4 separate regions of the Homo sapiens genome follow, and all the other regions are linked to region 1. Evidence: fine-mapped expression QTL. A gene starts in region 1. Each other region holds a variant in brackets. All regions are shown on one strand. Distances are between the middles of the regions.

Region 1 (8,033 bases):
TGTTATATCTTAATAATAACACAAAAGAGAAAGGAAAAGAAGAAATACCCTACGGTAATCTAAAAATGACTGGAAAAGGTTTGCTTTGCATCTAGTAAAATGCTTATTTTCAGCCAAATTCTTCAGGTAAATAACGGAAAAACTCATTCAACAGAGTCATTTGAATCGTGAGTAAAACTCCATCGCACAGTGCTCAGTTCTAACACCACCTAAAGTGAATTCACCCATAGGCAGAGCACTCTTCCACACGAGCAGCAAAGACCACACTCCATGTCCCTTTGCTACTCTAACGAAGGAAAAAAAGAGCACAACCCCGAGGAAGAAGTGCTTAGAATCCCACTTCTGTGTGTTCAAAGGGAGAATTAACTTCAATTCATACATTACCCTGAGGTGCATTTTTTTTAATAAGCAGATTTTTATTTTCAGAGGCTTGTATTTTAAAAACATTTTACACACTCTAGATACGGTTCATAAGCATAAAAACAGAGTAAGTTCAAGTGATGCCATGGAGACGAACAATAAATCTATAGATCATCAAATTCTAACACTGTACTTTATAAATAAGAAGCCAAAGAGTAAATTGAAATGTCAAGTACTTACAGCCATAATTAATTCAAAGGGGTATTTGTACACCCTCACTGGGGACTGGTATTTCTGCACCATGATTGCAATACAACAGCAACCCTCTCACACCTGCAAAACATAAATATATGTGATAAGTAACCACAATGCAGAAACAAATTATTAGTAAGTCTGCACTGACACATCATACCACACTCTAACGACAGAAAGAGACCACAATAGGTCATAATTCTATGCACACAAAAATGAAAAGATGATATTTAAATACATGAGGGCAGGGGGAGGTAATTAAACAATAAGAAAAAGCAGACAAAGCCCCAATGCAATGAGGCAAACAGTACTGGTGTGAGAGGGGTCCAATCCTCTCATTGGCTTACTGGGACTCTGCATTCATTACATGACCTGACCTGAGTCCTTTCCAGCAATGAACTGTTATGATTCTATTATTCTAATAACCAATATAATTAATGCTTGGATCATTTTCTCTTAAACAACTTCTACTAGAAGCCAAATAAAAATGATCTCGTGTTAAGATATTAGCTCTGGGAAAACAAAAATAAAACTGGAAAAAAATACTACTGTATCTCAAACTATGGAATACTCCTCAAAAGCTAGCTTCAAAGGAAACGTGTCAATTCCTATTTTCTAACTGTGTACACTACAGCTTTGGCGACCTGTCTTCGAGTGGCAGAGATGCCAAGTATTCTGGCTAAACAGGCTCCACTGAAATCTCTAGCCTCAGATAGCTAATATCCGTAAGTAATCGGTTAAATGTTCACACCTAATTCACAGTCAAGGAGCCCTCCTTATGGGTGCATAATCATTCTCTAGCGCCAGCCTACACGGATTGCTCTAAAAACACACCTGGACTTGCCAGTCCTCTGTCTCCCCTATTTAAAGTGAGAAAGAAAAATCGAATGAGCCTACCTGTCTTGTTGAGGATAATCATTAAGAATGGTACTTTATGCTGAACATGGTGAGAGGATATTCAAACATACAAAACTGAATATCCTCAAGGAGCCCGAAGTCTAGCTGTTAAAAAAAAAAGAGAGAGACAAATTACCAAGATGTATTTTATTTCAGAAACTTCCAAGATTCCTTTTTTTTTTTTTTTTTTTTTGAGACAGGGTGTCTCTCTGTTGCCCAAGGTGGAACACAGTGGCACAATCTCCACTCACTGCAGCCTCCACCTTCTAAGCTCAAGTGATCCTCCTGCCTCAGCCTCCCAAGTAGCTGGGACCACAGGCACGCACCACCATATATATTTTTTGTAGAAGGTTTCCCCATGTTGCCCAGGCTGGTCTCAAACTCCTGGGCTCAAGGGATCTGCCCACTTCAGCCTCCCAAAGTGCTAGGATTATAGTCATGAGTCACGGCGCCTGGTATAGAATTCCCATCTATAGTACTAAGGTTTAAACAGGTTTGGAACTTTCTCTGGTATGTCTGGCATACCTCTCAGAGGAGAGGTCATGGTGGAAAACATCGCCATCTGACAGTGTGAAAACGGCTAAGGAATGACTCTGGGTGACCACGAGTAAGCCATTTGACTTCCCTAGGACTCAGTTTCATCTCTGTAAAATGAGGTTTTCGGGGAGATGATCTTGAAAGACTTCCACCTCTAAAACCATGAGAATGAGAGCCAAACTCCCAAGTTCTCCAAACTCAACTTGAAGCTTTTCTAATATTCATCTTGATTATGCGACTGACACATCCTGATGTGCTGGGACCACGTTCTTTTTCTTTTGCAAACCTTACAGTGTTGGTGCACAGTGGGAATCCAATCATCTTTTAAAAATTTAATTGGGAATATTAATTTTAGGGTACTCTCCCAGATATGAGGACGATAACCGGGTACAAACAAGAGTTGGGGGAAGAAGCAAAAAAGCGTAATGCTCGTTTAAGAAACGGTAACATCCATTCAGGATTCCACCGCCTGGCAGAACTGGCTACACTCACTTAAGAACCTGCTAATTCACGAGCTTGTGAACCACAGCCAGGTCTCAGCTGCCGATGCTCTGGTCCAGATAAACGCCCTACGCGGGCATCCGGAGTGACAACGACCAAGTGGCATCCAGGAGCCGGACGGCCTCCATTGCATGACAATCGCTGTTTAAACAGGAGCCAAAGGCCAGACCCACTGAACGCATCCCGAGCAGGCTCGAGGGGCGGCCGGCGCCCGGGGCTGCTCAGCAGGGGTCCCGCGCGGCTGAGCCCCACGGGGCCAAAGCCCCGACCGACGGGAGAGAGGGGCGGGCACTGGCTCCGGACCCGAAACTCCGCTCTCAGCAAAAAGCGGCTCCCGGGAACTGGAAGCCTGGCGAGGTGGGGGTGGGGGCGGGGGAGGGGGGCGAGGGGCGGCGAGGGGCGAGCAGGGGGGCGGAGGGCGAGCAGGGGGGCGGGGGCACGGCCCGTTTCGGGTGCCGGGCCGATGGCAGCCGGGGCTGGGGAGGGACAGGCTCAGCAAGCGGGCGGCCGGGAGTTCCGGGGGGCCCGCCCGAGAGGCGCCGGACTCCACGGAGACCGGGACCGGGGCGAGGGCGCACTCGGACCCGCCGCGACGACGCGCCTACCTCTTGTCAGAAAGGCCGGGCCTGGGACACGGGGTGGCGAGGGGCGCTCATACCGGCGGCTCCGCGGGGCAGTCTCGGTTCCACTGCTCCGCGACCGTAGCTCGACCGCCGGTTCCGGGGAGGGGGCCGGGGAGGCGGGAGGGGGAAGGGGCGCGGCGACGGCACTTGTGGTTGTTACGGGTGACGGGGTGGGCGGGGCCGGGCGCCGGGAGGGGCGCGCGTGCGCGGCCGCGGCCGAGGGAGCGGGGGCGGGAGCGGGCGATGGTTGCTAAGAAAGGGGAGGGGGGAGGACACCCGGGGCCCGAACTGCGCAGGCGCGAGCTCCGACCCGCGAGCGTGGGAGGAGCTCGGAGAAGGCGCCGGCCCCGTCGCACTGCTGGATGTGCCCGAGGTCCTCGTGGCCCCTCCCAGTTTTGCGTCACTTGTTGGGGGCGGGGCCGGGCTGGGCTTCGCGAGTAGCGGGCGGAGGCGGAGTGAAGCCCCAAGGGGCTGCCGGCGTGCAGGGGAGGGGTTCGGCTGAGCGGGAAAAGGGAAGTTTGCGGGAGGTCAAAACCACCGGGGCCCTCCCGTATGGCTGCTGCTCTGAGGCCTGCCTCTGGTCGCCCTGGCGGCTGCCCCCGTGCTTCCTCATTTCTTGTTGACTGTTCAGGAGCACCAGGCTGCTCGCGCCAGTGCCCCGACCGCATTCTCGCCGAGTAATGGGGAGGAGGCGGACGCCGGTGCTGCGCGGCCCAGGGCTCGGGAGGGCCCGGGTGAGCCCGGGTGGAGCCCAGCGGCATCCTTGTCAACACATCCAGACGGCTCTAGTGTCGGGCCGCGGGCTTGAAACTGAGACGCGCGCCCAGGGCCTGCCCCTCGGAAACGAGGGTGCCAAGGTGGGGCTGCTAAGTAGCTCCCGAATTTCAGCAGGAGAGCACCGTCCAGCCCCAATTTTCAATCCGGTACCACTGAGACATTTTGGGGTCCTTAAGAGGAGCTCATGACTAGAAAGGGGCACCTCGCATGCCCACCCACACAGCAAAGCTGGTTTTATAACCAACATGCAATTTCACTGTCAAAGTCACTGTTGTTCCGTTCACATTAGTCACCCTGAGTGGCTGTACATTTCATGCTGCCATTGGACAGAACGTTTTTGGACCTGTTTAGGAATTTCCATCAAAGCCAGTTTACCAGACACACAAGCAAATCATTCATGGCCTCATCACCCCTTGTGTTCCACGTCAAACCATCATCTTCCAGCTGGGTCACCTACATTATTCACTACATTCAGTCTGACTGGCTTTTGCTTGTTTGTAGAAATCACATCCACCGGCCGGGCGCGGTGGCTCACGCCTGTAATCTCAGCACTTTGGGAGGCCGAGGTGGGCGGATCACGAGGTCAGGAGATCGAGACCATCCTGGCTAACACGGTGAAATCCCTGTCTCTACTAAAAATACAACAGATTAGCCGGGCGTGGTGGCGGGCGCCTGTAGTCCCAGCTACTTGGGAGTCTGAGGCAGGAGAATGGCGTGAACCCTGGAGGCAGAGCTTGCAGTGAGCCGAGATCGCGCCACTGCACCCCAGCCTGGTCGACAGAGCGAGACTCCGTCCCAAAAAAAAAAAAAAAAATCACATCCACCTTCAAAAGACGCTTTAACGCCGTTGCGGTGGCTCACGCCTGTAATCCCAACAGTCTGGGAGACCTAGGTGGGTGGATCACCTGAGGTCAGGAGTTTGAGACCATCCTGGTCAACACGGTGAGACCTCGTCTCCACTAAAAATACAAAAAGTAGCCGGGTGTGGTGCCAGATGCCTGTAATCCCAGCTACTTGGGAGGCTGAGGCAGGAGAATCACTTGAACCTGGGCAGAGGTTGCAGTGAGGCAAGATCACGCCACCTGCCCTGCACTCCAGCCTGGGCTGGACTCCAGCAAGACTCCGTGTCAAAAAAAAAAAAAAAAAAAAAAATTCACCTGACCTGCTGAACTTCTAGATGCAACCACCAGTTTACAGGAAATACAGAATAGAGGAACATGCTAAATGACACCATGAAAAACAATTGGCAAAGTACAGACTGTGGGAAACGGTACAAGACAAATATATTCTTTATCAAATTCCAAAGGAAAAAAAGAGGGGAATGGTCAATCTATAGATTAAAAGAGATTGGGAAATTTGTTGAGCCATACATTCATTTATGATTTGCAAGCTTTTATATGTATATTATACTTCAGTTAAACATTTTGAAGAAAAAACAGACTTGAGACATCAACCAATCACAAAAAACTTTATTTCCATTTTTTTTTTCTTGAAACAGTCTCACTCTGTTCCCCAGGCTTGAGGGCAGTGGCATAATCATAGCCGTCTGCAGCATCATCACCTGGCCTCAAGTGAACCTCCCACCTCAGCCTTCTGAGTAGCTGTGACTACAGGCATGTGCCACCACGCCTGGCTACTTTTTGCTATTTTTTTCCTTAGGTTTTTTTTGTTTTTTTGTTTGTTTGTTTGTTTTGAGATGGAGTCTTACTCTGTTGCCCAGGCTGGAGTGCAGTGGCACGATCTTGGCTCACTGCAACCTCCACCTCCTGGGTTCAAGTGATTCTCCTGCCCTCCTGCCTCAGCCTCCCGAGTAGCTGGGATTACAGGCGAGTGCCCAGCTAATTTTTTTATTTTTAGTAGAGACGGGCTTTCACCATGTTGGTCAGGCCGGTCTCAAACTCCTGACCTTGTGATCTGCCTGCCTCAGCCTCCCAGAGTGGTGGTATTACAGGAGTGAACCACAGCACCCTGCCCACCAACCTCCTACTTGCCTGGGGACTAGATTGCCTTTGTAGGACTAACATTAGCCACAAATTAGAAATTATGGTTTAGGAGTCATGCAGCTGGAGGCTACAAGATTCTGACCCTCCCTAAACTGCTCCTAAGATCAGTGCTTGAGACATTTTGCAGATCCTCCCCTTGATGGCTCAGCTGGCACCACCCAGATCAACAAACAGGCTCATCTGATCTTGTGGCCCCCGCCCAGGAACTGACTCAGCACAAGAAGACAGCTCCGACTCCCTATGATTTCCTCCCTGACCAATCAGCACTCCTGGCTCACTGGCCTCCCCCGACCCACCAAGTTGTCTTTAAAAACTCTGCTCCCTGAATGTTCAGGGAGACTGATTTGAGTAATAATAAAACTCCAATCTCCTGCACAGCCAGCTCTGTGTGAATGACTCTATTGCAATCCTCCTGTCCTGATGAATCAGCTCTCTCTAGGCAGCAGGGAAGGTGAACCCCTTGGGTGGTTATACTGTTATCCAGAGAAGGGGGTTATATGTAAAGATAAGCAATCTTTTGTTACAATAAATGCTTTTTCAGGAATTTGTTGAGGCAAACAGTGAAAGCACGTATTGGTTTACAGTCTAATATTCCTGAACAAGAATCTCCTGGATCAAATAGTAAGTCATGTTGACACAGAGATCTTAGGTCTCAGTCCTGATGGCTAAGCTGTGTGGATGCAGGTGGTCTTATTCCTCATGATCAGGAATGTAGGCCCTGAGATAGTCTGAACTCAAATCTCATGTTGAATTGTAATCCACAGTGTTGGAGGTCTGGCCTGGTGGGAGGCGTTTGGGTCATCAGATCCCTCATGAATGGCTTGGGCCATCCCCTTGGCCATAAGTGAGCTCTCTCTAAGTTCACATGAGATCTTCTCACTTAAAAATGGGTGGCACCTCCCCCTACTCTCTGGAGCTTCTGCCTGCTTTCACCATGTGACCTGCCTGTTCCCCCTTCTCTCCTTCCACCAAGACTAAAAGCTCCCTGAGGCTTCACCAGAAGCTAAGCAGATGCCAGCGCCATGCTTCCTGAACAGCCTGTGGAACCTCTTAAGCACTATTTGAACATATAATGATACTAAGAAATTACTGCTTTCTTGTGGCTGAGCGTGGTGGCTCACGCTTGTAATCCCAGCACTTTGGGAGGCCAAGGCAGGTGGATCCCCTGAGGTTGGGAGTTTAAGACCAACCTGACCAATATGGAGAAACCCCGTCTCTACTAAAAATACAAAATTAACCAGGCATGGTGGCACATGCCTATAATCCCAGCTACTCTGGAGGCTGAGGCAGGAGAATTGCTTGAACCTGGGAGGCAGAGGTTGCGGTGAGCCGAGACCGCACCATTGCACTCCAGCCTGGGCAACAAGAGCGAAACTCTGTCTCAAAAAAAAAAAAAAAGAAAGAAAAAGAAATTATTGCTTTCTCTTAAGAATGCCAATTAAACTTTTTTTCTTTATAAATTACCCAGTCTCAAGTATTTCTTTATAGCAATTCGAGAATGGCCTAACACGGGCCCCTTCTGTGTTGCTACTTTGCCATTACCACAGTGTGTCTTCCCCCTCCAGCCAGCAAGTCGGAGGAAAGGGTGAAGAAGAGCAAACCTGCTCCCCGAACGACGCTTCCTTGGAAATGATATGCATGTACAAACACGTGCACACACATGCGTGCACACCCATAAGCAAACATACATACTTCCCATTGGCCAGAACTTAATCACATGGGCACACCCAAGAGCAAAGAAGGCTGGGAAATGTAGCCTGTGCCAAGTGACCACACACCCAGCTACAAACGGTGAGTTCTGTTGCTAAGAAAGAAGCAAAGGATGTATAATATTGGTGGCGACTAACAATCTCTCTCATCAAGGATACAATCAAACTATTAAAATGTAGTGGTAATGTGTGTTTGAAAAATTTCAAAAGAAAGAAGGAGGAAGGAAAGAGAAAGAAAGAAAAAAGAAAGAGAAAGGAAGGAAGGGAGGGAAGGGGAGAGGGAGGGCAGGGCAGGGTGAGGATGAGAGAAAGAAAGGAAGAGAGAGAGAAAAAGAGAGAAAGAAAGAAAGGAAAGAGGAAGGAAGGAAAGAGAA
Region 2 (8,033 bases), 26 kb after region 1:
TTTTAGGGCCTTCTTATCATGCTGGGTCCCATGGAGGCCCACTGCAAAAGGCCAAATCATTCTGTCATTCTGCATAGTCTCCCTTAAAGTGGTGGGAACGAAGAAGGAGGCACAGGAGATAATATTCAGGGAGTCTCAAAGACCAAAAGGTCCCCAAACGAAGCCCCTTTGCCCAACTTCATTGGAATGAAAGACTTTCTTATCCCTCAAGCCTACCAAATATTTCTTCCTGCAGGAGCTGGCCAGGGTCAGTAGGGCTGGGTTTTCTTGAGCAATTCATTGGTGACAGGCCAACTCCATGGGGAAAATTCTCATCTAAGAGTTGATCTGTGAAGTTATGCTAATTCATCAGCCCTGTCTAAAAGCTTCAGGGCAATTGATTAGGCTGTCAAACATTCATTTGGCCTGTGAGAATAGCTTATTATTTCTTTTTAAAATACCAATCTCTTGGAAAGATGTCGATTGGGTTTCTACGTGCACCCCAACGGTGCCTCTGTGTAGAGCTTACTTCAGCTGCATTTTTTTTGTTTTGTTTTGTTCTGCTTTTCTGAGACAGAGTCTCGCTCTGACACCCAGGCTGGAGTGCAGTGGCTCGATCTTGGCTCACTGCAACCTCCACCTCTCGGGTTCAAGCAATTCTCCCTCCTCAGCCTCCCAAGTAGCTGGGACTATAGGCATGTGTCACCATGCCCGGCTAATTTTGTATTTTTAGTAGAGACAGGGTTTTACCATGTTGGCCAGGCTGGTCTCGAACTCCTGACCTCACGTGATCCACCCGCCTCGGCCTCCCAAAATGCTGGGATTACAGGCATGAGCCACTGCGCCCGGCCTTCCATTGCATTTACTGCAGGGAATAGATAAAGACGGAAAACTGTTGGGTAAATGGAACTCAACTAACACCAGAGACAGCCAATTACAGCAAATGAAGAGGATGCTTACCATTTAATTTTGTAAAGATGGGGTGTCCGCCTGGAATCATGGTCCAAAAATCCTCCCACCCATGGCCCCAGCCCCCTCTCACAGCTGCAGTGGTGGATGAGACAGGGGACTTCTACAGTCCCACTTACCCCAGAGCATCCTGCCAGGTAAGCTCCTTACAGACATGAAAGAGGGTTGTGGAAAAGTCCATGAAATTCCAAGTTTGTTCAAACATCCTGTTACTGATAAAAATGTCCCTTCAAATTCCAAATTGGCTTTGTAGCAAATTTATGTCTGTACTACTTCTCAGACTTGTAAAACACAATATGCAAACAATGATGAAAAATATGAGCCTTTCAGTTTTACTCTGCCCCAAGAGCCAGGGGCTGAAAACCAGGTCCGTCACATGGCTCTCTGTTCAGACAGGAGCAGGTGCCTCCTCCCAAGTTCCCACTCCAGAACTTTACTTTGAGCCTCTTCCAACTGGAAGGTCTTTTCTCCCAACCTCTGCCCTCCACAATCCCACACCATCCTTCCCGGTTCATTTCCTCTGTGTGACACCGAGATTTAAGGGTCAGAATTAATTTCTCCTTCTTCTGGGTTCTGGCTCCGGGTTTTACTCACATCATTATTATAGTTCTCACAACAGGCTGCCTTATTTAGGGATTCCTCAGGCACACAAATTTCTTGCAACAGCAAAGACCCCTAAAACGTTTAAATCAATGTGAATTTTTACAGCATTTAAAAATATGTATGTCAGCCGGGTGTGGTGGCTCATCCCTATAATCCCAACACTTTGGGGGACTGAGGCAGGAGGAATGCTTGAGCTCAGGAGTTTGAGACCAACCTGGGCAACATAGTGAGACCCCATCTCTACAAATAAAAATAAAAATTCGCTGAACCTGGTGGTGTGCACCTGTAGTCCCAACTATTTAGGAGGCTGAGGCAGGAGGATCGCCTGAGCCCAGGAGTTGGAGGCTGCGATGAGCAGTAATGGTGCCAATGCACTCCAGCCTGGGTGAGAGTGAGACTCTGTCTCAAAATTTAAAAAAAAAAAAAAAGGAGAGTCAAAACTTTTGTCTTCTTTTCTTTACCAAACAATAAACTGACTTCAAACAGGCCTTGATAAAGAAGATTTTAAATATAGGTCTTCTTGCTTCATCCTGCCAAGTATTCTGAGATACTTGGAAAACAGCTCCCACGACCTCTCTCAGTGCTGATTTTGTTCCTTTTCACTTAGAAAACAGTGATTTGTTTCCTGTGTTTTGAAAGCAAGAGAACATGCTCCTTTGGTTGCAACAACTCACAATGTAATCAGCGCCTAAAATATCCCTTCTCTTGGAGGGGGCAGCATCAGGGAAGAACAGCAGCCACCCAGAATGAAGGCCCTAGACCTCCACCCCTTCACAGCCACAGTCAGGAGCAAGGGTCTGAGCCCCAAAAGGGGCCTGAAACAAGTGGAATTATTGTTGAAAACACCCTTGACCAAACTTTGCCACCAAAGGAAAAGCAGAAGGGCTTGCAGCTTTTTTATTTATTTATTTTTTTGAGATGGAGTTTCGCTCTTATTGCCCAGGCTGGAGTGCAATGGCACGATCTCAGCTCACTACAACCTCTGCCTCCCGGGTTCAAGCAATGCTTCCACCTCAGCCTCCCAAGTAGCTGAGATTACAGGCGCACACCACCACGCCCAGCTAATTTTTGTATTTTTAGTAGAGATGGGGTTTCACCATGTTGGTTAGGCTGGTCTTGAACTCCTGACCTCATGATCCACCCACCTCGGCCTCCCAAAGTGCTGGGATTACAGGCATGAGCCACCGTGCCCGGCCGGGCTTGCAGCTTTAAACAAAATACACAGCTGCAGATGCAGGGGCTGCAAGTTATATAAAACACCCACGTTTGCATTTCCCAGTTTATTTGTGACTGGTACATGGTCAGAGGCAGGCAGCAGCAGGACGGGCAGTTTTCTGGAGTGGTTCAAGTAAATGACTAAAGGCAAAACAAGAAAACAGTTCTCTTCTCAGGAACTGAGAAGAGACCTGTGTTCCTGCTATAGCTGGGAGCCTCCAGAAAATGCTACTGGGACTTAATGGCTTGTTTCAAGTGTGTGCCTGCCTCCTTTTTTTTTTTTTTTTTTTTTTGGAGATGAAGTTTTGCTCTTGTCGCCCAGGCTGGAGTGCAATGGCGCAATCTCGGCTCACTGCAACCTCCACCTCCTGGGTTCAAGCAATTCTCCTGCCTCAGCCTCCCAAGTAGCTGGGACTACAGGCATGCGCCACCATGCCCAGCTAATTTTTGTATTTTTAGTAGAGACGGGGTTTCACCATGTTGGCCAGGCTGGTCTCGAACTCCCGACCTTAGGTGATCTGCCCGCCTTGGCCTCCCAAAGTGCTGGGATTACAGGAGTGAGCTACTGTGCCTGGCCAGTGCCTGCCTTTTTTGTTTGTTTGTTTTGGGATGGAGTCTAGCTCTGTCACCTAGGCTGGAGTGCAGTGGCGCGATCTCGGCTCACTGCAACCTCCGCCTCCCAGGTTCAAGCGATTCTCCTGCCTCAGCCTCCTGAGTGGCTGGGATTTCAGGTGATCGCCACCATGCCCAGCTAATTTTTGTATTTTTGGTAGAGACAGGATTTTCACCATGTTGGTCAGGCTGGTCTCGAACTCCTGACCTCATGATCTGCCCACCTTGGCCTCCCAAAGTGCTGGGATTACAGGCGTGAGCCACCTTGCCCAGCCAGTGCCTGCCTTTTGAATCATGTGGTGGGGTGGAGGGAAGGCAGTGGCTCCTGGGATCATTTGTCACAGATATCCAGGTGGCCAAACAAAGGGTTTTATAAAAATGATCTTGCTGCAGGTGGGGATTGCAGGCTGACACCCACACCTCCTTCACATCCAGGGCGCCCTTTGCTGATTTTATTTGCACCCGCATTTAGCAGCCGGGATCTCTCTCCTGGGACCAGAAGGCTGTGCCTGGGGAGCATTTTAGGCCTGTGAGTAGGGTAGGGGACATTGAATCTCTGCACAAG[G/A]TGGGAATAATAGAAACTAACCTATCATGCTTAACTCTTTGCTGTACTGCAGAGGGAAGCGGAAGCTTTAAGGGTGTCCACTTCTCATCTAAATGGTTTTTGCCACAGACAGTGACTTCTTCACCCCAGCAGTGTCTCATGGGTGGCTTAGAAGGGAGATGAACTTACCTTGGTTGGTGTTTCAACTTTTTCTTTTCTTTTCTTTTTGAGACAGAGTCTCACTCTGTCACCCAGGCTGGAGTGCAGTGGCGCAATTTCGGCTCATAGCAACCTCTGCTTCCTGGGTTCAAGCAATTCTCGTGCCTCAGCCTTTTGAATAGCTGGGTCTACAGGCATGTGCTACCACACCTGGCTAATTTTTTTATATTTTTAGTAGAGACAGGGTTTCACCATGTTGGCCAGGCTGGTCTAGAACTGCTGAACTCAGGTGATCCACCTGCCTCGGCCTCCCAAAGTGCTGAGATTACAGGTGTGAGCCACTGAGCCCAGCCTTAACTCGTTCTTTATCAAGCCTGCTGATGCATTTTTGGGTGCATTCAGCCTGTGTCCCAGAAAAGTGCCCAAGAAGGGAAGGCTGGCTGGGAAGGCAGAGGTGAGAATCTGAGGTTCTGTGGGCCAAGGTGGCACTGACTTCTTATAGACAGGGAAGGTGACCTTCCTTTTTGGAAGCAAAAGAACTTTAAAATATTACTGGCAATACCAATACTCTGTTCTCAAGATAGAATTCGTTTCACATATTGTAAAAATCCTAGTAAAAAGCATTATTTTTCTTTTCTTTCTTTTTTTTGTTTTTCGAGACAAGGTCTTGCTCTAATGTCTGGGCTGGAGTGAAGTGGTACGATCTTGGCTCAGTGCAGCCTCAACCTCTTGGGCTCAAGTGATCCTCCTACCTCAGCCTCCGAAGTAGCTAGGACTACAGGCACATGTCACTATGCCTGATTAATTTTTTTGTAGAGAAAGAGTCTTGCTTTGCTGCCTAGGCTGGTCTCGAACTCCTGGTCTTAAGTGATCCTTCCACCTCGGCCTCCCAAAGTGCTAGAAGTACAGGCATGACCCATTATGCCTAAGTACTCTTTTTTTTTTTTGAGTCTCGCTCTGTCGCCCAGGCTGGAATGCAGTGGCGCGATCTTGGCTCACTGCAAGCTCCACCTCCCAGGTTCACACCATTCTCCTGCCTCAGCCTCCCAAGTAGCTGGGACTACAGGTGCCCACCATATTTTTTTGTATTTTTAGTAGAGATGGGGTTTCACCGTGTTAGCCAGGATGGTCTCGATCTCCTGACCTCGTGATCCACCCACCTCGGCCTCCCAAAGTGCTGGGATTACAGGTGTGAGCCACCACGCCTGGCCGCCTAAATACTTTTCAATTCATCTTTGTAACTGTTAACTGTTCAGGAACAGTATGCACTTCTCAGGGCTGTCCTGAGAGGTGGATTAATGAACATTGCAAAGACGTCAATATAGACTATAAATGAGATTTCATTCTTCTCATTTCAAAAGCAGTATGTGTATTCCTGGGAAAACTTCTGAAAATATAGATAAGAGAAAAGGATTAAGGGAAATCCTACCACTTAGAAATTATAATTCTTAACTTTTTATTATATACCTGTGATTGGCAACATAATAGCCCCCCTGCATTAGTCTGTTCTCACACTGCTATGAAGAGAGACCCGAGACTGGCTAATTTATAAGTAAAGAGGTTTAATGGACTCACAGTCCTGCATGGCTAGGAAAGTCTCAGGAAACTTACAATCATGGTGGAAGGCAAAGGGGAAGAAAGGCACTTTCTTCACAGGGCAGTAGGAAGGAGAAGTGCTGAGCAAAGCGGGGAAAGGGCCCTTATAAAACCATCAGATCTCCTGAGAACTCACTCACTAACACGAGAACAGCCTGGCAGTAACTGCTCCCATGATTCAGTTACCTCCCACCGGGTTCCTCCCAGGACACTTGGGAATTATGGAAACTATAATTCAAGATGAGATTTGGGTGGGGGACACGGACAAACTGTATCATTCTGCCCCTGGCCCCTCCCAAATCTCATGTCCTCACATTTCAAAACACAATCATGCCTTTCTAACTGTCTCCCAAAGTCTTAGCTTATTCCAGCATTAACCCAAAAGTCCAAGTCCAAAGTCTCATCTGAGACAAGGCAAGTCCCTTCCTCCTATGAGCCTGTAAAATTGAAAGCAACTTAATTACTTCCTACATACAATGGGGGTTCAGGCATTGGGTAAATATACCCACTCTACACGGAAGAAATTGGGTAAAACAAAGGGGCTACAGGCCCCATGCAAGTCCAAAATCTAATAGGGCAGTCATTAAACCTTAAAGTTCCAAATGATCCCCTTTGACTCCATGTCTCACATCCAGGTCACACTGATGCAAGAGGTGGGCTCCCATGGCCTTGGGCAGCTCCATCCCTGTGGCTTTTTGGGGTTCAGCCCCCCTCCCGGCTGCCGGCTGCTTGCACTGGCTGGCCTTGAGTGTCTGTGGCTTTTGCCCCACTGCACTCCAACCTGGGCGACAAAGCGAGACTCTGTCTCAAAAAAAAAAAAAACACTTCAAAAGAACTTTGGTCTCCACAATCTTTTATCTTAACCTCAACATTCCCTTTCTATCAATCCCACGTCTTTAGACAAACTCAGCCAAAAAATTGTCAACCAAAAAATCTTTAAATTCACGTATAGCCCGGAATCCCACCCCCGGCTTTGAGTTGTCCCGCCTTTCTGGACCACACACATGTATTTTTTTTTTTTTTTTTTCTTTTTGAGACAGAGTCTCGCTCTGTCACCCAGTGCAATGGCACAACCTCGGCTCACTCCAACCTCTGCCTCCTGGGTTCAAGCGATCCTTCTGCCTCAGCTTCCCGAGTAGCTGGGATTACGGGTGCCTGCCACCATACCCGGCTAATTTTTGTATTTTTGCAGAGATGAGGTTTCACCATGTTGGCAAGGCTGGTCTCAAATTCTTGACCTCAAGTGATCCTCCTGCCTCGGCCTCCCAAAGTGCTGGGATTACAGGAGTGAGCCACTGTGCCCAGCCCCAATGTATTTCTTTTTTTTTTTTTTTTTTTTTTGAGACAGAGTCTCACTCTGTCGCCCAAGCTGGAGTGCAGTGGCACAATCTTGGCTCACTGCAAACTCCCGGGTTCACACCATTCTCCTGCCTCAGCCTCCCGAGTAGCTGGGACTACAGGTGCCTGCCAACACGCCCAGTTAATTTTTTGTATTTTTTTTTAGTAGAGATGGGGTTTCACCCTGTTAGCCAGGATGGTCTCAATCTCCTGACCTCATGATCCACCCACCTCAGCCTCCCAAAGTGCTGGGATTATAGGCATGAGCCACCGCGCCCAGCCAGCCCCAATGTATTTCTTAAATGTATTTGATTGATGTCTCATACCTCTCTAAAATGTTTAAACCAAGCTGCGTCCTGACCACCATGGGCAAATGTTCTCAGGACCTCCTGAGGGCTGTGTCTCTGGCCATGGTCACTCATATTTGGCTCAGAATAAATCTCTTCAAATATTTTATACACTTCGACTCTTTTCATCAACAATCATCACCCAGGGCAAAGTTATTCCCAGAGCCACTTCCATAACTGATGGCTGCAAGATCCAGGCTCTCTAAAGGGAGGCTGAGGACAGTGACCCTAGGAAACAATCATTTTTCTTTTTGTCCAACAATGCAAGCCACTTCCTCTCTCTGCAACCAAGAATGCGTTTCCTTTCCGGAGCTCAGTCAACCAGTGTAATTACTCGAGCAGAAAAGTCACCTTTCAGAGCTTGGTGTTCTGAGACAGGAAGGCTTCTTATGTATTCCTTGGAAGACAAAGAATGTTCCTCAATGAAAACCGGGTAAACAACTCCATGCCTCTATTCTGGGTAACATGACAAAAGTTAAAAGGAAGCAGTTGGCCTGAAGTCAGTTCCAACTATTGTGTTGCTTGCACAGAAAGTACGGAATTAAAAAGCATGGGGGAGTCCAGTGGATTCCAAGAAAATGTTTGCGAGCCTACAAATTATGATGAATTATGATGCTATTTTCAAAAAAAGAGGCATATTAGGATATCAGCATTTTACGCATTTAGTTAAT
Region 3 (8,033 bases), 34 kb before region 1:
CAGCTCTGTGACACCCCCAACTCTGTCCCCCAATGACAGTGGCTATGATTTTATACTCTTCATAGGACAGCCATGTGTCCTGTCAAAATTGTTCCTGGTCCATACAAAAGAACTAGGTATATGTCAGTTATTTCACAGTATCCAGCAGAGGATTACAGCTTCTAAGTTTTGAACCACTGCTATAAGCACAAAACAAGAATAAAAACAAAAAATTATGCTCAAAAGAAAAATAATCATCTGCTAAAACACTAGCATGTCTACATTTGGCTAAAGCAAGACTACTATTCAGATCTAGCATTAGATATAATGTTTTAAGAGGGGGTCAGTTTCAGATTGTTCTAGTTAAAGACAAACACTATTCCCTCTCTCCTTGCTGAAACTAACATACATGCAACTAACCATAGCTAAAACTGGTTTAACAAGGTCTTCTGGAATATTTTCTCTTAAAGTACTTTTAATGTATTCTTCTTCAAGAATTTCCAGCCAAGACTACCTGGAAACTTTTGTTAACACTATTTAATAGGCTGACATAGAGTTACTGAGCTTTCAAATGAAATTCAAAGTATAATCTAGTATGCCTGATCAATTGTATCTTTTGCATTTAAATTTAAATTAGAAAAATAAGGCCCATCATTATTCTACTGTCTGTTACATTTCTGAACGATCTCAATACGGACATCTCAGACATCAGCCCGGGGGCTCTATGTTTTAAATTTGCTCACTGTCCTGAACATAATCATCTCAGACATTCCTGACCAGCTCATCTGGGTACATTTGTCCTTCAGCACTGTCACATGTGTTCCTTGATGTCTCAGTAACTTTCATGGTGCCTCAAGACCAAAAAAATTGATGATTTATTAAGTTACTATGTCCAAACAATTTAAAAAGCATTTATGTCCTAATAACTTAGTAACCATTTGAAAAAATAATAAACTTAAGTTGAAGAAAAAATGTCTTTGCTTCATTCTTAATCAGAAGGATTTCTAAGGATGTGTAAAGTTGCATCGTCAAAATCCAAAGACATGTACAACACAGAGTGAACCTAAACTACAGATTCTAGTTAAAAATAACATAATTGGCCAGGTGCAGGGGCTCACGCCTGTAATCCCAGCACTTTGGGAGGTCAAGGTGGGCGGATCACCTGAGGTTGGGAGTTCAAGAACACTCTGAACAACATGGAGACACCCCGTCTCTACTAAAAATACAACAACTAGCCGGGCATGGTGGTAGGCACCTGTAATCCCAGCTACTCAGAAGGCTGAGGCAGGAGAATCACTTGAACCTGGGAGGTGGAGGATGCAGTGAGCCAAGACTCTGCCATTGCACTCCAGCCTGGACAACAGAGCGAGACTCTGTCTCAAAAACAAACGAACAAACAAAAAACCATAATTATTGTGTAAGAGACATCCAGTGGGGAAAAAATAATGTTGTCAATATTAGTTCATCAATTTTAACAAACATACTGATAGAGGCAGGAGGCAGACAAATGCCTAGGCAGACAGGAGCAGGTCCCCAGTGAAATCCAACCTTCAATCTGGAGAGAGTCCTGGGTAAATCCTCACACGGGACTGAGAACCCACCTTCTCATTTGGCACAGTTTCCTCTGATTGATCCGTCTTTCACCTATTTTACATATACCTATCCTTTCCTAATTGGTTTACTTTTTTTTTTTCAAGACTGAGTTTCGCTCTTATTGCCCAAGCTGGAGTGTAATAGCATGATCTCGGCTCGCTGCAACCTCTGCCTGCTGGGTTTGAGTGATTCTCCTGCCTCAGCCTCCTGAGTAGCTGGGATTACAGGTGTGCAGCACCACGCTCAGCTAATTTTTGCCTTTTTAGTAGAGACAGGGTTTCACCATGTTGGTCAGGCTGGTCTCAAACTCCTGACCTCAGGTGATCCACCTACCCTGGCCTCCCAAAGTGCTGGGATTACAGGCATGAGCCACCATGTCCAGTCTCCTAATTGGTTTTCTACACTATCATGCCCACCTTTGAGTGGTGTCTTCACTTTAACCTTTTTTGCATACTCACAAACCAATCAGCACACACTCCCTATTCTGAGCCCATAAAAAGCCCTGGGCTCAGCTACACGGAGGCCGGAAATTAAAGAAAAATAAAATTTAAAAGAAAGAGAAATAAGTTTTCCTGTATTAGGCTGATTTGTCCCAGAGGCAGCAACAGGCACAGCCGAGACCCAGGAAAAGTCTTGATAATATTATCTAATGTGCTCTGGAGACTTTCCCAGCACTCCCTCAACACAGGGAGAAGAAAAAACAAATTTTTCTTTGTTTTATAGAATGAGTTTATAGATTCCTGTTCTCTGTAACTAGTGACTTCAAGTATTGTTTTATCTAAGAAATACAATGAAGGTCATGAAAAGCCTGAGTAGGCCGGAACTACAGCTGCCCGGGCACCACAGTGAAGGTTATAGGATAAGTCCATGCCTAGGCAAACACAGATAACGGACATCTGGGTTGCATAGCAACAGTTATGTGCAATCCTGAGTTATGAACCTGTAACGATTTAATTAACTGTCTTTGTCCCACCTCTGTATCCCTGCTTTCACGCCACTATAAGCTTGCTTTAGCTAGCCCACCCCCTTCTGTGAAGTGTGTATAAAAGTCAAGTGCTGTCTTTGTTCTGAGCCCAACCTTTGGGTGTGAATCTGCTGGGCCTGAGTGCACTCAATAAAAGATTCTCCTGTTTTAACCCGAGATCTCTCTCTCGTCCTCCTGAATCCTGCAACAATACTAGCGCCAGAGATGATGAATTCCTCTTCAAAGGGTTTAACTGTGTAACGTCCTTGTTCTTTGTTCAGAAGCCCAACCTCCTTATACTCTCTTGTTTCTGGCCTGCAAACAACCCTCCTGCTCTTGTTGTGCCCTGACATGCTCACACAAGTCCAGACATACCTTGTACTGTAACAGACAGACTGCTCCTATCCCCTCTTTCTCTTACAAATCATGCGTTTATCCTATTCAAAAAAGTTTTAAGTCTTAGCCAACTGGGATCAGTTTAGATTGTACAGTCCAATCCTAGCCAACAGGGGAAGGACACCGACAGGAACTGCGTTAGGGATAAAAACCCCTTCCCTCCTTTGTTCAGTGTGCTCTTGCAGTCGTAACAGATGCAGGCGGCACCCTTCTGCAAAAGTAAATTGCCTTGCTGAGAAATCCTTTGTCTCAGTGCTAGTTTTTCTCTTGAGCACAGCTTACTTGTTCCCAACAATCTGGGGGCCCATCCAGGATTCCCATTCTCCTCTGGGGAAGGGTCTCCAGTCCTCACTCGTGAGGAGACAGGTCCCACTGCCTCGTTGTGGTGGCCTCAAGGGTTAGGGATCGAGACCCACCTGGTGTGACGAATAAACCCGGACGCTTAGCAACGCGGGAGAAAAAGGCCTACAAATACCACAGTGACCAGGTAACTCTGTGCAGAGACAAAGGTTAAGAAAAAACACAATGGCAGTGCAGTATTTCCTTGGTGGTCAGGACATCCTGGAGGTTGAAAGTGTGTGAATGAGACGCACAATTGAGTGTGGAGTCCGGATCTGTGGTTCCGTGGTCACCTCATACAGCTTAGGACAGCTTGCCTGTCTTGCCTGTCGGGGGATCATACCGACCCACCAACGCTAAGGGGGACCTGAAAATTCCCACAAAGGAAGCAGCCAGAGAAGGATTAAGCAGAAGCAAAAGAATGCAAGAAATCTCAAGTAAGGGGGGTTGGGCCTCTAAAGAAAGAGTGCAAGAGGCCAGGCGCAGTGGCTCATGCCT[G/A]TAATCCCAGCACTTTGGGAGGCTGAGGTAGGCAGATCACAAGGTCAGGAGTTCAAGACCAGCCTGGCCAACATGGTGCAACCCCATCTCTACCAAGGAAATAAATAAATAAATAAAATACAAAAAATTAGCCAGGTGTGGTGGTGTGTGCCTGTAGTCCCAGCTACTTGGGAGGCTGAGGCAGAAGAATCGCTTGAACCCAGGAGGCAGAGGCTGCAGTGAGCGGAGATCGTGCCATTGCACTCCTGCCTGGGCAACAGAGCAAGACTCCACCTTAAAAAAAAAAAAAGAAAAAAAGAAAGGGTGCAAGAAATCTCTAGTAAGAGAGGTTGAGCCTCACAAACTCAAAAAAACACCTTCTCCAGGATGCGAAATACCCCAAGCAAGACAATAGAATTTCCCGGGACAGCCCCTTAGGTCTCCTGCTAAAATACTGGAAAGATAATGAAAGGACTAAAAATAAGAAAAAGCAACAAATGATAAAATACTGTTGTTTTATTTGGACTAAGGAAACTATCCTCAAACCATCAGTTTTCTGGCTACAGTTTGGGTCAAATGAGGATTGGATTTGTCAACTTTTAATAGAGTATGTGAATAACAAGAGTCCTGTCCCTCAGGAGGAGATACGCTATGCCCTGTGCTGACGGCAGGGGCCTGTCCACCTCTACCCCCTCAAAGCCAGTAAGAATAAGCCAGAAACTACTTACCCTATAGAAACTAAGGCCCCCACCCCTAAGCAACCCACATGGGATCCTTTAGACCATCTGCCTCAGCCAGATACCTCTCACCTCCCTCCCCCTCAGGCAGCCGCCCTGGACCCTTCCCCCGACTCACGTTGTGCCCCCTCTTTATAATCCTAACTCCTGGAATCATTCCCAGCCTCAGGGCCCTCCCCCAGGAAGACTTCGGTGCGAGACAGAACAATGTAAAAAGGATATTCAAAACTTCCCTTTCCCCACCACTTCTAAAGAGTTAGCTCCAACTCTCTTCCCCTTAAGGGAAGTGCCCCTCAGAGGAGGCTAAATGCTCCATTAACTAGCTCAGAGGTCCGAAACCTACAAAGGGAGCTCAAACCACTCTTAAGTGACCCTTATATAGTGGCTGACCAGATTAATCAATTTCTCAGACCCCAGATATATACTTGGGCTGAGCTAATGTCTATCCTAGGTATTCGCTTTTTAGGAGAAGACAGGAGCATGATTCGCAGGGCTGCTATGACAATTTGGGAACGTGAGCATCCCCCAGGTCAGAACGTCCCAGCAGCTGAGCAAAAACTTGCGGCCACAGATCCTCAATGGGATAGTAACAACGCAGCCTACTGGAGGAATATGCAAGACCTTGGAGAACTGATAATTAAAGGAACTCAAAAATCTGTATTCCGCATCCAAAACATTCCCAAAGCTTTCTATATACAACAAGGGAAGGATGAAGGACCTACAGAGTTCTTAGAAAGGCTCAAGGAGCAAGCGAGGATATATGCAGGTCTAGGTTTAGAAGACCCTCTTGGGCAGGGGATGTTAAAGCTCCATTTTGTTACCAATAGTTGGCCAGACATCACAAAACACGTTATAGAAAATAGAGAACTGGAAAGATAAATCTATAGAGCAGCTTTTGAGAGACGCTCAAAAGGTATATGTACGAAAAGACGAGGAAAAGAAAAGCAAAAACAAAAAGCAAGGATCATGCTGTCCGCCCCACAACAGAACACTCAGGGGCCAAAACCTATAAAGAACTTAAGCCCCCACTTTCCAGGCCATATAAAGGCTATAAAACAGCACAGCCAAAGAACCCAAAAGTAGAGAGGGAAAAGGGCAAAACAAATGCTTCAAGTGTGGAAAAATAGGCCACTTTAAAAAGGAATGTCCCAGATGGGAAAAAGAGAAAGAAGTCATTCTACTCATGACCTTGGAGGAAGAATACGGCGGTCAAGGGCTCCACTCTTTTTTTTACCTCAAGTCCCACCAAGAGCCCTTGATAAATTTAGAGGTGGGACCCAAACCTGAGCTTATCACCTTTTTCATTGATTCAGGAGCTGCTCGCTCCTCAGTTTGTTATCTTCCCCCTGGTGTAACTTGTTCACAGGAAAAACTTTTTATTTCGGGAGTAAAAGAAGAGGGGTTTAAAGCAAAAATCTTAGAAGAAACAGAAATTAAATATAAGGACCGCTCAGTAAATATTAAACTTCTGTTAATCCCGGAGGCAGGAACAAACCTATTTAGGAAGAGATTTAATGCTAAAATTAAACCCAGACCTCTATGTTAACCAAGAAAAATTCCTCCCCTCCCTAAATTTGCTCACTACCCTAGATAAAGGATACATCCATCCAGATGTATGGTCAAAAGAAGGAAATCGAGGCAAGTAATAAAAGAAAAAAGGCATAACGGGTACTCAGTAGTAAACGGAGATATCCTCACAGAAATAAAATCGGGAAGATTACCTAATAACGGGTCTGCACCTGCTCTGCGCAAACATGTGAGCTGTTTGCATTAAATCAAGCCTTAAAATTTCTGCAAAACCAGGAAGGAACTATTTATACAGACTCCAAGTATGCTTTTGGAGTGGTCCACACCTTGGAAAAATTTGAACAGAGCAAGGCCTCATTAACAGTAACTTAGTCCACAGGGACATAATAATTCAAGTATTAGAAAATCTATAGTTGCCAGAACAAATAGCTGTTGTTCACGTCCCAGGTATCAAAGAAATCTTTCCTTTAGAAGCTGAGGGAATAATCTTGCTGACCAAATAGCCAAGCAAGCTGCCTCTTCCCCAACGGGAACCCATTTTCCATTTAACTCCTTGTCTCCCTCCCCCAGCCACAGTCCCCGTCTTTTCCCATAACAAACAAGAAAAGTTAAATGAAATAGGAGCCAAAGAAAGCTCAGAAGAAAAACGAATATTACCAGATGAGAGGGAAATGTTGCCTAAACCTCTCATAAGAGGGATGTTGTCTCAACTCCATCAAGGAACTCACTGGGGTCCCCAGGCTATGTGTGATGCCGCTCTCGGAGTTTATGGGTGTATAGAAATCTATACCCTTGCTAGGTAAATTGTGGATAGTTGTATAATATGCAAAAAAAACTAATAAATCAACAAATAAGATGCAAGCCCTTGGGGGAAAAAACTCAGGGTTAACGCCATTCCAAAAAATTCAAATTCATTACACTGAAATGCCCCCAGTAGGCCATGTTAACTATTTATTAATAATAGTAGATCATCTCACCCACTGGGTAGAGGCCATCCCTTTCCCAAACACAACAGCTAAACATGTAGTTAAAACCTTATTAAAACAAATTATACCTAGGTTTGGAATTATAGAAAACACTGATTCAGACAATAGAACCCAATTCACTGCCCTCGTTATTAAAGGGCTCACTCAAGCACTAGGAATAAAATGGGAATATCATACACCAAGGCATCCACCCTCATCAGGAAAAGTAGAAAGAATGAACCAAACTTTAAAAAATCATTTAACCCAACTAATTTTAAAAACCCAGCTACCTCGGACAAAATGCCTTCCTATTGCCCTGTTCAGAGTCCAAACAGCCCCGCAAAAGGACACTGGCCTCTCTCCTTATGAAATGCTTTATGGACTGCCTTACTTAAACTCTAATACTGACATTCCCACTTTTGAAACAAAGGATGAATTTCTCAAAAACTATGTATCAGGTCTGTCTTCCACCCTTTCCTCTCTTAGGACTCAAGGCCTTTTAGCACAAACTGCACCCCTTGAATTTGCAGGCCATCATCACCAGCCCAGAGATTACGTCCTCGTCAGAAGTTGGAAAGAAGAAAAGCTCAAACCTACTTGGGAAGAACCTTATTTAGTACTTCTAAAAACTGAAACGGCAGTCAGGACCACCAAAAACGGTTGCACTCATCACACCCAAGTCAAAAGAGCACCATCCTCTCCAGAGTCATGGACTGCCGTTCCAGGACCCACCCCAACCAGAGTCACGTTAAAAAAGAAAGTTTAATCTGTCTCTTCCTTCTTAGCTTCCTTTCCCCAGCTACCACACATCTTATTATTAATATAACCAGATCTAGCTCCCCTCAAACCATTACTTTTAATGCTTGTCTTGTTATGCCCTGTGGGGATCTCCAAAGCCAAAGACAGCTGGCCTCTTCAGAAAAGTACCTTTGCCCTTCCAGGATAAATAAAACTGCCTACAGAACTGACTTTTGCATGGACTGAGGCCGATCCTATAACTGGTAGTTCTGTGATACTTAGGGAGATGTAATCTATACCACCAAGTGTCAAGGCTGG
Region 4 (8,033 bases), 40 kb after region 1:
TCAGGAGATTGAGACCATTCTGGCCAAATGGTGAAATCCCGTCTCTACTAAAAATACAAAAATTAGCTGGGCGTGGTGGCAGGCACCTGTAATCCCAGCTACTCAGGAGGCTGACTGAGGCAGGAGAATTGCTTGAACCCAGAAGGCGGAGGTTGCAGTGAGCCGAGATCGCACCACTGCACTCTAGCCTGGGTGACAGAGGAGACTCTGTCTCAAAAAAAAAAAAAAAAAAGTAAATACAAAAAAGAGTCCTTTGGATACGGTCTCTGCTTTGATGATCTTGGGACAAAGTGAAGATGGGGTTCCTACTTTACGGTGGGAAGAGAGGGAGGGCCTCCCTGGTGGTATTGAGCTGTGAGCTGACTCACAAGAGGGAGTGGGAAGGACAGGGGCAGGGCGTGCCAGGTGGCAGGGTCAGCGAGTGCACAGGCTCTGGAGCAGGTCATAAGCAGGTGGCACTGGGACCCCGCCCGGTGCCGCCTGGATCCACGGTCTTCCCGCTGTGCATTGTATCCTCATAACCCCATGGAGCCGGGCCTTCTGGCAGCTCAGTGTCAAATGAAAAACAAATCCAGGCGTAGGAGGAGAGACTATTGGAAAGGATGACTGCAAGGGCTGGGGACAGTAACTACTGCCATGGAGAAGCACTTTGGGAGGCCGAGACAAGAGGATCACTTGAGATCAGGAGTTCAAGACTGGCCTGGCCAACATGGCAAAATATCGTCTCTACTAAAATACACAAAATCAGCTGGGCATGGGGGCGCATGCCTGTAATCCCAGCTACTTGGGAGGCTGAGGCAGGAGAATCGCTTGAGCCCAGGAGGCAGAGGTTGCAGTGAGCTGAGATGACACCACTGCCCTCCAGCCTGGGGTGAGGTTCTGTCTCAAAAACAAAACAAAACAACAACAAAAAAAAAACAACAACAAAAAAGAAAAATCTGGCTGGGCATGGTAGCTCATGCCTGTAATCCCGGGACTTTGGGAGGCCGAGGCAGGTGGATCACCTGAGGTCAGGAGTTCTAGACCAGCTTGGCCAACATGGTGAAACCCCATTTCTACTAAAAATACAAAAATTAGCCAGGCATGGTCACATGTGCCTGTAATCCCAGCTACTCAGGAGGCTGAGGTGGGAGAATTGCTTGAACCTGGGAGGCAGAGGTTACAGTGAGCTGAGATCGTGCCACTGCACTCCAGACCGGACTACAGAGGAAGACTCCCTCTCAAAAAAAAAAGAAAGAAAAATCATTTCAGGCCAAGCAGTGCTCATGCCTGTATTTCAGTACTTTAGGAGGCCGAGGTGGAGGATCACTTGAAGCCAGGAGTTCGAGTCCAGTCTGGGCAATATAGTGAGACCTCGCTTCTACTAAAAAATAGTAAAACAATTAGCCAGGCATGGTGGCATGCACCTGTATAGTCCCAGCTACTTGGGAGGCTGAGTAGGGGGGATCCCTCGAGCCCAGGAGTTCGAGGTCACAGCAAGCCATGATCACACCACTGTACTCCAGCCTGAGCCACAAAGTAAGACTCTGTCTTTAAAATAAACAAAAAAGGCCAGACATGGTGGCTTATGCTTGTAATCCCAGCACTTTGGGAAGCCAAGGTGGGAGGATCACCTGAAGTCAGGAGCTTGAGACCAGCCTGGCCAACATGGTGAAACCCTGTGTCTACTAAAAATACAAAAATTAGCTCGGTGTGGTGGCATGTGCCTGTAATCCCAGCTACTCATGAGGCTGAGGTAGGAGAATCACTTGAACCTGGGAGGGGGAGGTTGCAGTGAGCCGAGATCACGCCACTGCACTCCAGGCTGGGCAATAGAGTGAGACTCCCTCTCAAAAAAAAGAAAAAAAGAAAAAAGAAGAGAAAGAAAACAAGGGAAGATACCCTTCACTTCCATATCCTTTCAGAATTTCTTTCTCTGTCCTTTTCAAAAGTGTATACAGCTTTCAAGTGGTTAAATGAGTCTCCTGCCAGTTTCCCCCAACTCAAGTCATGTTTCCCCAAGGACCTGAGCCACCCACGTGAACTGTAATCATCAAGGAAGATAACTGTTTTCCGGAGGGGATGATCCCAACTTCAGCTGTCACCTGATTCTAAATGGCAAAACCCACTTACACAGTGCATGGGCTGTATCCACTTAGCTGTATCAAAGCGGGAGATTTGTCTCTGCAGTTCTTTCAGTGGGCTGCCTGTGATGCTCAACGCGTTTTGGTTTAATGCTTATTCAATCATAAAATTGTTTTCTTTTGCTTTTACTTTTGTGGCGAGGCTTTCTGGGTTGGGGGATTTTGTTTTTAAATTATATTTCCCCAACAGATGACTGCAGTTTTGTTAAGCAAATAGCAAAGAGGTCTTTGGATGTTAATCATTGCCTCTTGATGTACCTATGTAAATAAGAGACCTCAGAGAACCCAGCTTGCATGACATAGAGACCCTGGTGAATAAACTACAAGAAATGGTGACCGCAACGGGACTGTTGGGAACGTTTTCCCTAACACAGGACGCTGGTTTAAAGGAATTACATCAACGTGTAAATGAGCACCACCAATAGTCAGGATGATGTGTTCTACAAAGTAAGTCCACGCCTAAGTCCCACCATCCCTGAGAAAGGACCGAGTGGTCCTCAGACCAGCAGTATCAGCATGGCCTGGGAGCTTGTGAGAACTGCCGAATCTCCAGCCCAGGCCAGACCCACAGAACCACCAGAAGCTGCATTTTGATGGGATCCCCAGGGGAGTCCTTTGCAAATTGTTTGGGAAGCACTCAACTAGACAACAAATTCACTTATATTCTTAGACCAAAAATGCAACAACGTGGGCCTTCTGAACCAAGACAGGGATTTAACCATGACAGTTATTATGTCTGGTCAAAAAAGAGGGGCCGGGAACAGTGGCTCATGCCTGTAATCCCAGCACTTTGGGAGGCTGAGGTGGGCGGGTCACCTGAGGTCAGGAGTTCGGGACCAGCCTGGCCAACATGGTGAAACGCCATCTCTACTAAAAATACAAAAATTAGCCTGGCGTGGTGTGCGCCTGTAATCCCAGCTTCTCAGGAGGCACAGGATAATTGCTTGAACCTGGGAGACTGGGGTTGCAGTGAGCCGAGATTGTGCCATTGCACTCCAGCCTGGGCAACAGAGCAACAGGGCGAGACTCTGTCTCAAAAAAAAAAAAGAGAGGGACTATATGCTTAACACTAAACCAGGCTTGGGACAGAGCCCTTTCTACCTGATATAATTAATAAATTCATAACTTGCTTCTGGGTAGAGACTGGCAAGATTGGGAAGGAGTTTTCTGGGAAACCAGTTACCCAACCAGCTGCCTGTCAGAACCATCAGCCTGTGACTCTAGATTTGGCCTAACAACAATAATCCAGCTCTTATATTTTCCTATAAAATATCCCTACCTAAATGTGAACTTATGAATTGGACTACTACAGCCTGACCCCTGCATACAATATTGTAACAAAACTTTAATCAATTGTATGAAAAGTCTTCTCTCACTCATCTAAGAAAAAAATTGGAATGGATAAATTAACTTGATTGACCTTACGTAAAGTTACGCTGAGAGGCCACCAGGAAGTGTGGGAAGAATTTAGCAGCAGGTTCAGAGAAAGCCCAGGCTGGGCGCGGTGGCTCACTCCTGTAATCCCAGCACTTTGGGAGGCCGAGGTGGGTGGATCGCTTGAGGTCAGGAGTTTGAGGCCAGCCTGACCAACATGGTGAAACCCTGTCTCTACTAAAAATACAAAAATTAGCCGGGCGTGGTGGTGGGCGCCTGTAGTCCCAGCTACTCTGGAGGCTGAGGCAGGAGATTTGCTTGAACCCAGGAGGCAGAGGTTTCAGTGAGCCGAGATCACAGCACTGCAATCCAGCCTGGGCAACAGAGTGAGACTCTGTCTCAAAAAAAAAAAAAAAAAAAAAAAAAAGAGAGAGAGAGAGAAAGAAAAGAAAAAAAAAAAAAGAAAAAGCCAGCCAAGGAAGGGGAAATTAACAGGGACAACAATACAGAATGCACACACTGCAGCGCAGGGCGGTAGGCACCTTTTGCGCATGCGCACTAACGTGAATGCCGCATGTACAGATGACCACAGTGCTCGGAGGGTGCAGAAGGGGAAGCAGAGGGTGA[A/C]TAGGCAGAAGTCAGTCCACATCTACCAGGAAGAGGTCAGTCCACATCTACCAGGAAGAAAGTCAACAGGCGAGGACCCAGATGACTCAAAGAGAAGCAGCGCAGCACGCCCGCTCCTCGGAAACAAAACCAGCGAAGCTGAAGGAATGGAAAATGGCTCCCGCTGGGAGCGCCAGAGCAGGGAAGCTTAGCCTAGTGTTAGAAGCCTTTTAGTTCTATGAATTTTTTGAACTAATGCATGTATTACTTTGGGAAAAAAAATTTTTTTAAACAAAAAGACATGTTTTTGTTGTAATGCTGGGGCATGTTAAAAAAAAACAACAAAAAACGCATGAAGCCTTTATTTCATTTTGATCTCTTAATACCTCCTTTTGATCTTCCCCGTTAACTTTCGAAGGGGTGAAGTATCTTGGAACAAAGACAGTACATTAGTGAAGGAGACTCACGTACCTTAGGATTTTTTTTGTTTTTGTTTGAGAGAGTCTCACTCTGTCATCCAGGCTGGAATGCAGTGGGGTGATCTCAGCTCACTGCAACCTCCACCTCCCACGTTCAAGTGATTCTCCTGCCTCAGCCTCCAAGTAGCTGGCATTACAGGAGTGTGCCACCACACCCGGGTAATATTTGTATTTTTAGTAGAGACGAGGTTTCACCATGTTGGCCAGGCTTGCCTCGAACTCCTGACCTCAAAGTGATCCACCCGCCTTGGCCTCCCAAAGTGCTGGGATTACAGATGTGAGCCCGGCCATGCCTTTGGATTTTAGGGGCTTCAAGATGTGCCTTAGGATTTATGGGGGGCTTCGTCCATAACTCATCCTGATAGAAGATGACAACTGAGCAAAGTTTTCAAATAGGCTCATGTCAGAAATTTGACTTTCAGAAATCTACTCAATGGGGCCAGCCACGCATAGAAGGTAAAATGTGGCTTACGGAGCCTCGTGTGGGAGTCAACATTAAAACCCAAGTCTTGGTTTTGTTAAAAGGGATTTGTCATTCAAAGAGAGTGGAAGTCTTATTTTAATTCAATAAAATTATCTAAATGTTTTGCTGCTCGGGCTGTAGTTCTAACGTGGCATTGCATAACCACTGTTACATAACCCTCCACAGCTGACAGTCTGTGAACATGTGACCTTCCAGTGACTTACACGGGGCTCCTTTCATTACCATTGCAATAAAAAGAACTTGGTTTTGGCTGTAGCTGCATAATTGATCTGAAAAAAAAAATCACAACAAATAACTATTTCAAATACATTAATCACATGTAACCACATCAAACCCAAACAGGCTTCTATGAGAATGTAGTTTTTGTGGTCTTGTTGCTAGCAATTTAAATACTGATATAAATGAAACACACATATCTACTCTGTTGAAAAAGCAATAAGTCCAGGGCTCCCACTCTCAAGGAGCTAGTGTAGAAGTAGTGTTCAGGGAAGCTAAGGCACAGGGAAGGAAACAATTCCAAAACCACGGGGTGAGCTCCATGAATGAGGTGGGCACTAGGAGAGGACAGATCCAGGGCTGAGGTCCTTGTCACAGAGAAAGACAGTCTCCAGCTTCATCACTGCAGTGAAGGGCACGCGATCTTTATGTGAACAAAGTCTGTCCCAGAACACTTCCAAATACTGCAGGACATGTGGCTCAACATGAGCCAAAAAGACGGTGTCCCCATGCATAGACCTGGGATCCTCTCAATGGGCCAATGTGTAGGAACAGGAAATACTTTTTTTTTTTTTTGAGACAGTCTCACTGTCGCCCAGGCTGAAGTCCAGTGGCACGACGATGGCTTACTGCAACCTCTGCCTCCTGGGTTCTGGCATTTCTCGTACCTCAGCCTCCCGAGTAGCTGGGATTACAGGTATGCACCACCACGCCTGACTAATTTTTGTATTTTTAGTAGAGATGGGGTTTTGCCATGTTGGCCAGGCTGGTTTCGAACTCCTGACCTCAGGTGATCCACCTGCCTTGGCCTCCCAAAGTGCTGGGATTACAGACATGAGCCACTGCACCGGGCCTAGAACAGGAAATACTTCTAACGTAAACTACCATTAGAGGGAAAAATGGTTCCTAAAAGGCAAGAGTAGATAGAATATGTAAGCTACGGACACTATTCAGAGAAAAGGCAGAAGTCCCACACTTTCCTCCATGTGAGGCCCCATGAGATCTGGCCTCAGCCCCCCAGCCCTCTCATCAACTCCTTTTGCTTGTGTGCCAGGGCACTGGCTGCCTCCCCTGCTGGGGTGCTCTTCCTGGTCATCATGTGACTTACTCTCACTGAAGGATTTGGTTAAAGGCCACCCATCTAAAATTGCAAACCCCATCCCGTGCTCCTCCGTAGTGGGGCTGCTGTCTTTCTCTCCATAGCACTCATCTGTTATTCTGCATATTCTAATGACCTGTTTCCAGTCTCCCCTATCCTGGGATATAAGTTCTCTGAGAGGAGGGAGTATGTTTTGCCTCTGGCTGTATTTTAACATATCCAGCAATACTTGTTCAACTAAAACCATCAGAAAGCTGTTCACCGGGCTAATAAGCCAGAGAACGTACAGTACTCTGTTGAAGATTACACTTTCAGAATGGTCATTCTCCCCACTCCCCCGCCCCCACCCAGCAAGTCCACTTTCCCACCAGCTAACAATCAGCACTCTTTTTTTTAAATTTTTTTTCTTGAGATGGAGTCTTGCTCTGTCGCCAGGCTGGAGTGCAGTGGCACAATCCCGGCTCACTGCAACCTCTGCCTCCCAGGTTTAAGAGATTCTCCTGCCTCAGCCTCCCGAGTAGTTGGGATTACAGGCGTGCGCCACTACGCCCGGCTAATTTTTGTACTTTTAATAGAGACGGGGTTTCACCATGTTGGCCAGGATGGTCTTGATCTCTTGACCTTGTGATCCGCCCGCCTCGGCCTCCCAAAGTGCTGGGATTACAGGCGTGAGCCACCGTGCCCGGCCACAATCAGCACTCTTAACTGTGCTGGCTTTGTGCAAACTTTGTTTGGTCTTGATAAGTACCTGTCAATTTCAAGTTATAAGCAATGTTCATGCCAGAGACACTTCTAAACCCTTAATGCACACTGTCTGGGACTTCAAATACTGGTACGTGTTAACACTGGATTCCTTACAAAGAAAATCTTTCCCGATGTTCTCACCAGCTGGCACTGGGAGTACATTGGAACGGAGAAATGTATTAGAACACGCTCTTATCTCCACGTGCAGTGCCTGTGCTTGGTTCCTGACATGATAAACGCTTCCAAGGAAAGCACTTATCACGAACCAAGACACCTGGACTGATTCCACTGGGACAACCGGACAGATTCGTAACTAAGAGCCCAGCCCCGCAGATGAATCTTCTGCATAACTTTTTGGTGACAGAAAGTCTTGGCTAAATTACACAAATCAAAACAAAACAAAAAAACCCCAAAATCCAAACTCTGTACCAAGTTACAACAGACATAACTTTTTGGTCACAGAAAGTCTTGGCTAAATTACACAAATCAAAACAGAACAAAAAAGCCCCAAAACCCAAACTCTATACCAAGTTACATCAGAGAACACAGTCTGGTGTTGGATTACATCCTCTAGTGGACGAAGAGAGAAATTCAAAATCTTGACTTAACTGTTCTTTAATTTCTATACCTTTTCTGATACAGGGCTTGTGTCCCACGGTGACTTTTTTTTTTTGAGATGGAGTCTCACTGTCACCCAGGCTGGAGTGTAGTGGCGCTATCTCGGCTCACTGCAACCGCTGCCTCCCAGGTTCATGCGGTTCTCCTGCCTCAGCCTCCCGAGTAGCTGGGATTATAGGTACGCAACATAACGCCTGGCTAATTTTTGTATTTTTAGTAGAGACAGGGTTTCAGCATGTTGGCCAGGCTGGTCTCGAACTCTTGACCTCAGGTGATCCGCCTGCCTTGGC

Evidence for each region.
Region 2: its variant is fine-mapped to the expression of SEC14L1 in whole blood (TOPMed, PIP above 0.99).
Region 3: its variant is fine-mapped to the expression of SEC14L1 in blood mononuclear cells (TOPMed, PIP 0.96).
Region 4: its variant is fine-mapped to the expression of SEC14L1 in whole blood (TOPMed, PIP above 0.99).

Annotation. Positions count from the first base shown.
Region 1 is chr17:77,136,227-77,144,259 of GRCh38, reverse strand. SEC14L1 (SEC14 like lipid binding 1) reads right to left here and starts at 3,291. Exons shown (of 17, transcript NM_001143998.2): 1 at 3,153-3,291; 2 at 1,510-1,614; 3 at 601-693. The coding sequence starts at 663. LOC105371901 (a long non-coding RNA gene) reads left to right here and starts at 2,821. Exons shown (of 5, transcript XR_934988.3): 1 at 2,821-2,904; 2 at 7,516-7,741. RefSeq lists silencers at 2,519-2,813, 2,978-3,427, 3,438-3,647, 3,798-4,007.
Region 2 is chr17:77,109,863-77,117,895 of GRCh38, reverse strand. It overlaps a transcript of SEC14L1 not described here. Among named protein-coding and RNA genes, the nearest start is that of MIR6516, 24 kb to the right of the region's middle. The variant G/A (reference allele first, on the strand shown) is at 3,944.
Region 3 is chr17:77,169,931-77,177,963 of GRCh38, reverse strand. The region is part of intron 3 of SEC14L1 (SEC14 like lipid binding 1); the gene reads right to left. Among named protein-coding and RNA genes, the nearest start is that of SEC14L1, 33 kb to the right of the region's middle. The variant G/A (reference allele first, on the strand shown) is at 3,770.
Region 4 is chr17:77,096,320-77,104,352 of GRCh38, reverse strand. It overlaps a transcript of SEC14L1 not described here. Among named protein-coding and RNA genes, the nearest start is that of MIR6516, 11 kb to the right of the region's middle. The variant A/C (reference allele first, on the strand shown) is at 4,125.